2 separate regions of the Homo sapiens genome follow, and region 2 is linked to region 1. Evidence: fine-mapped expression QTL. A gene starts in region 1. The other region holds a variant in brackets. All regions are shown on one strand. Distances are from middle to middle. Region 1 holds the start of TEX22 (testis expressed 22). Region 2 overlaps INF2 (inverted formin 2).

What was found. PIP is the estimated chance that this variant, and not a neighbour inherited with it, causes the effect.
Region 2: its variant is the best candidate, but not a certain one, in a credible set for the expression of TEX22 in breast (GTEx, PIP 0.87).

Annotation. Positions count from the first base shown.
Region 1 is chr14:105,397,135-105,400,033 of GRCh38, forward strand. It overlaps TEX22 (testis expressed 22), which reads left to right and starts at 1,404. Exons shown (of 4, transcript NM_001195082.2): 1 at 1,404-1,501; 2 at 2,168-2,356. The coding sequence starts at 2,207. It overlaps PACS2 (phosphofurin acidic cluster sorting protein 2), which reads left to right. Exons shown (of 25, transcript NM_001100913.3): 25 at 1-1,013. RefSeq lists a silencer at 917-1,826 and enhancers at 1,494-2,004, 2,005-2,515.
Region 2 is chr14:104,715,292-104,718,190 of GRCh38, forward strand. INF2 (inverted formin 2) reads left to right here. Exons shown (of 23, transcript NM_022489.4): 22 at 1-49. The coding sequence ends at 48. Among named protein-coding and RNA genes, the nearest start is that of ADSS1, 7.5 kb to the right of the region's middle. RefSeq lists an enhancer at 1-324. The variant G/A (reference allele first, on the strand shown) is at 1,263.

The DNA.
Region 1 (2,899 bases):
CCACACCATGCCCAGCACCAGGGAGGTTGGGCAGACAAGACCTGGGCCATGCCAGCCCTCTGTGCCTCGGTTTTCCCACTGGTTACACAGGATGGTCGCATTTTCCCTGCCTACCTCACAGAGCTGTTCTGAGGGTGCATGGAGGAGCACTCTGTCCCACCAAGGACAACTAGAAACCAAAGCCATCTGACAGCCAGTGCGGTAAGGGCGGGGGATGTGTGTGTGAGGTGTGCACACCCCCCGAGAACCTGGCCCTGGACTGGCCTCACAGGACAGGAGGCAGCCCCTTGTAGAGCTAGGGCTCAGCCCCATCAGTCTCAAAGGTTAAGCCACCAGTCACCACCGAGGCACCCCTCAGGCCTGGTGGCCACTGTCCACTATTACGTAGACAGACCCCACCCTCACCCAGGCCAGCTGTGGGCCAGTCCCGCCCTGCAATCTGGTCTGCTGCCTTCCTCTTCCATGTTGGTCCCCTTGGCCACTGTCTCTGGGCATGCAAGCCAGTGTCCTGGTTCAGTGCCTCGGCCAGAGCTGGGGCAGGAGAGGGGCCTCTGGGTGAGAGCTGGGGGTGTCTCTGCAGGGTACTGGCAGCCTTGCCACACTGTCCTCATTCCCAGATGGAAAGACCTGAGTGCCTCTCGCCTTCCTCCGGGAATGAATTCCTCATGAAAATGACCAGGCCACTTCTTCCGAGGGCCAGGCCGCCCCCTCCCCGAGACCTGTCCTGCCGTCCGCGGGTGTGTGGCCTGTAGGGGACTGAGAGCTGGGCTTGCTGGGCACCTCTGGAATCTGACCCTGTGGGCCAAAGAAGCACCACTGTAGTTTCTGCAGACCCCCATGCGGTTCATTGTGCATTGTTTGGTTTCTAGGATGTATGTGTTGCTAGTTTTTTTTAATGAAACCCTGGATTAATGTAAATAGCTTTTTGGGGAACGGATTCTAATGTCACGTATGTGACCGTGTGGACTATTTCAAGGTGCTGATGCAACACTAATAAACCTGGAGGGGCCGGCCCCCGCCTGCAGTGTGATTCTCTCGGCCGTCCACCCCTTGGGAGCACGCGGCGGAGCAGCGCCTCCCTCCCGCCCGCGCGCCCCGTCCTGGGTCGCCCCGCCCCAGCCCTGCGGCCCCGCGCGCGCGGAGGTGGCCCGGGGCTCAGCGGCATCGCGCCGCTTGAAGGGCGCAGGGCCGAAAGGGGCTCTGGCCGACAAACCCCAAGTTCAGGTCTGTGCTTCGGGAGACCCCGGAGGCCGACGCCCGGAAGGGCCCGTGGGGCGGTAGCGGCCATAGACCCGGATATGCGCCGGGGACCCCCAGACCGCGCCCATCCCCCACCCGCCGCAACGGAGCCCAGAACGCAGGCGCGGCGCAGACCGGAAGCGGAACCGGTGGGGGCGGGGCTTGCCGTAGCGGACGTTCTGGAGCGAGGCGCCGGCCCCTTGGGCCCCCTCAAGCCGCGGTGTACTCCAGCGGCCCCCTGTGGCCTCTCCATCCGCGGCGGGTCTGTCCCTCCTTCTGTCTCCGGGTGCCCACGTACCCCCCACCTCCGACCGCCGTTCCCGTGTACCCCGCCCCCCCGCCGAACCCCAGAGTGCCCACGGCCTCCAGCGTGTGTCCTGAGCCTTCTTCCCCCGTCCCTCCGCGGACCCCGGCCGCGCAGACCCCGCCTCCCCACCGGAGAGGGCGGGCACGTAAGGGCTCCGGGCTGGGCCTGGGGCGAGGCCTGGGCCGCGTGGAGGGGAGGTCTCAGGGTCGGAAGCGGGGCTGTGGCAAGAGCTCTGGGCCTTTCCTTCGCCCCGGGCGTAGCAAGGCCGGGCCCTGAGAGCGTGCCCGCAGTGCTGGCTGAGGGCTGATGCCCCTGGAACGTTTGAGAAGGCTGGCAGAGGCGTGGAGTCCGTGCAGCAGGCTGCCGAAGGCTTTCCAGGCTCCCGGGGTGGGGTCGGCAGGGGCAGAGAGGACAGTTCGGGAGGCTGGTGTGGAGAAGAGCTGCGGCGGGAGCTGGGGGATCCACTCCACCCAGAGGGGTCAGTGATGCCTGACCTTTGGCTGGAAGGTGACCCTAGCAGACCGCGATACTGCCACCATCTGCCCCCAGGGACTCAGGTATTGGTGGGCACGTGGGTGGCCTTGTGGGCCCCGCCCCACCTCCCCCTGCTCCTACCCCCAGATCTCAGAGGTGTGGACAAGCAGCCTACTAGGGCTAGAGATGGACAGCAGGAAACTGTCCCCCCGGGGGAAGAAGCTGGAGTCGCACCTCTCCCAAGAGCACAGGCGGCCCCCACTGGGCCTGATAGCAGCCTGGGGCCAGCCCAGTATCCAGAGCAGCGTTCAGCAGGGACTGCAGACTCAGGACTGGGTAAGCGGAAGGAAACCCTGGCCGAGGCTACTCTCCTGTCCCCAGCCCGCCTGAGGCCGCTGTCTCTGAAAACTCCAGGCTGGTCGTGATGAGCAGCCTCAGGGGAGGGCTGAGTGGGGACTGATGAGAAACAGATGGCTGGACTCAGGAGGCTCTCTTCCCCATGGCCCTGGACGAGCACCAAGGTGGACCTGCACCCTTCTTGCTTCCAGAACCGTGGGCCGCTGGGCTCTGTAGAGAGGTCTTCCAAGGCCAGGAAGGAGGCAAGGCAACACACTTCCCTTAGCTCTCCCCAGTGCCTCCCACCCCAGGCTGAAGGTGGCAAGAAGCGGGAGGGAAAGCAAGGTCCCCAGGGGGGGTGGTGTCCTCCCAACCAGGTGGGGCAGCTGTCAGGAGAAGGATTTGTCACTGAAAGTTGACCAAAACAAAATAGTGGGAGAGGCTCTGCTGTGATTCCCCAAACTGGAAGCATCTCCTGGTCTCTCTACTGCTGGACAGTGAGCTACAGGCTTGTGTCAGGCCCAGTAGTGAGAATGGTGGGAT
Region 2 (2,899 bases), 680 kb before region 1:
CCTGATTCTGATGATAATAAAACAAAGAAACTGTGTGTGATCCAGTAAGGTATGTACGCAGCCGGCGCTCCGTGGGGGCTAACAGCAGCTGCAGGGCAGTGGGGCTGGAGCTTGCTGCCCACACCCCTCCGGGACACTAACCTGGCTTCTCTCCAGCCCGCGTGGTGCGTCAGTGTGGCCTTGCCGCTCCCGCAGCCCTGGTGGTGGGCTTCCCGCCCCATCCCCTCCCTCTCCGCAGGTTACCTGCTCAACTGGTGCCTCCTGCAGGCAGGACGCAACCTCAGTGCTGGCCCCGGGCATGCGGGCCTCGAGAGGGCAGGTGGCAGGGCCAGCCGGACTCCCTTAGCAAGCAGGATCCGGGCCCTGGGGCGTGGGCGGGACCTCCTGGCTGGCAGGACAGGCTGAGGTTGCTCCTGTCTGGTGTCCTGGCGCTAACTGCAGTTCCAGTAACCCTGTGGCTTTCCTGCTCTGTCTGTTGGTGGAGGGCTATCTTCACTCTAAGTGTGTCAATGGCGTGGGGCCTTCTGGGGCATGTCCCCAGGAAGTCTGTGAGGAGACCGGGACAGTCGCAAGGGCAGATGCTGCCAGGGACAAGTACACTGCAACCCCCCTCCTGTTGGACAGTGTCCTCCCACCCCGAGGCCATGGGTGGGTCTATGGAGAAGCAGATTACCCCCCGCACACCGAGTCTTCTGGGGGGCGACCAGCCAAAGGTCAATCAGCCAGGTCCGTCCACAGGGCTGGAGAGGCCAATGCATCCAGCTAGACAGGACCAGCCTGCACTGGGTGGAGGAGGGGCTAGAGCAGAGAACCAGAAGGTCCAGCCCGGCCGATCATGAGCTCTGTGAGCCCAGGTCGTGGCGTCTTCCAGCACCTCCAGCCTTGCTCAGAGCCAGCCCGGTGTCGGTGCATCACAAATATGCTGACCGCTGGGCCTGGGGCTTAGGCTCAAGGTGCACACCTGAGGTCTGCTGGTGCCCATCAGAGGCAAGAGCAGTCGTGACCCCGGAGAAGCTTCTCCGGACAGCTTGTCCTCGCTGTTGGGGCACGGCCTTCACCCTGGGTTCCAGCTTTTGCTTCCAGGGTCATCTTCCGAGTGTGGCTCTCTGGTGTGAAGCACCCACGTGTACTTTTTAGAAAGGTGCTGGCATCTCCCTTAGAGGCTGGAACTTGGACTTGCTGGCCCTGAGTGTGAGGAACAGTGGAGCATGCAGGTCTGGGGCGGGCGGCCACATCTGACAATGGTCCAGTGAAAGATGGAC[G/A]TGTCCAGTGCCAGCTCCACGCTCCACCTGGTTCCCTCCTGAACCTGCTACACGTGCTTAGCCTCCACCCGCCCCAGCTCCTGCCACGCACGTGGCTGAGGGCAAGAGGAAGAAGTCCTCTTCTCTCCCCAACTTTTTATTTTTTATTTTTTTTCAAGACGGAGTCTCACTCTGTTGCCCAGGCTGGAGTGCAGTGGTGCGATCTGAGCTCACAGCAACCTCCACCTTCCAGGTTCAAGTGATTCTCCTGCCTCAGCCTCCCGAGTAGCTGGGACCACAGGCACACGCCACCACGCGCGGCTAATTTTTTGTATTTTTAGCAGAGACAGGGTTTCACCATGTTGGTCAGGCTGGTCTCGAACTCCTGACCTCAGGTGATCCACCCGCCTCGGCCTCCCAAAGTGCTGGGATTACAGGCGTGAGCCACCGTGCCCAGCCCCCACCTTTTTATTTAGAAAATCTTCAACACCACAGGAAACTGCATAGATCAGAATGAACAACACCTTCTCCCCGAAATTACAACCATTTGCCAAAAATACCAAAATTGTGACCATTTTGCTACATTGCCCCCCTCCAACTGAGGCATCTGAGAGTTTCTTATAAACATCATGGCACTGGAGCCCTAAACTCGCCCACAGACACCTGAGAGCACAGCCGTCTTCCTCAGTCCCCCCCGGGCAGGGTGCGCTGCCGTCCTCCCAGTCCGCCCCCACCGGGCAGGGTGCGCTGCCGTCCTCCCAGTCCCCCCCCCGGGCAGGGCGCGCTGCCGTCCTCCTAGTCCGCCCCCCCGGGCAGGGTGCGCTGCCGTCCTCCCAGTCCCCCCCGGGCAGGGTCCGCTGTGGGGCGCTTCACGTCCACATGCTTCTAATACTCGGTCCCAGTGCAGATGTGCCACTTGCCCCAATAATTCCTTCTCTAGTTGTTGCTTTGTTGTTTTTGCAAACAAGATTGTATCCAGAGTCACATGCTGTGTTTGGTTATCATATCACTTCAGTCTCTTTTGTTCTAGAACATTCCTGCCCCTTTTTGTCTTGTATGACATTGACGTTCTGGAAGATAACTTCACTTTGGGTTTGCCTGATTGCGCCCCCAAGTAGGTCCAGGTTGAGTTTTGGGGCAGGAGTTCTACCCCAAGGGATGCCATGTCCTCCCCAGCTGGGTGGGGACGTTTGTGGCAGCAGCGCTGACCACGGCTGCGGGGGTGGTTTCTGAACCTCCACTGCACGAACACCACGCTGTCTGGTTAATAAGCACCGGTGGTGACCTGTGGAACCAACCGCTGCAGCGCGGTTCTGTGTTCGCCGCCCCTCGTCCGAGCGTTCCCCCCTCCCCTCCCTTTTTCCATCACGTGAGTTTTGAACGTGCAGTAATCCTTCACTGCCACTGCCGTGCATTTGATGGGGACCAGCGGGGGCCCTGAGCGCTTCCCATCTTTGGCACAAGCCCCTGTTCCTAGCTCACCCCAGACTTGCTGATCCCCCCATCCCTGCACGGGCCTTGGTCTTGGCCATTTCTCCAGGTTCCCTGAGTGGGGAATGGTGCTGAGACCCTCCTTTGAGTGATTGTTTTGGATAGTTTTTGTTTTCTTGCTGTCTGTTTAGAGTAGTGGTTCTCAAACCCTGCTTGGGCCATCCCAC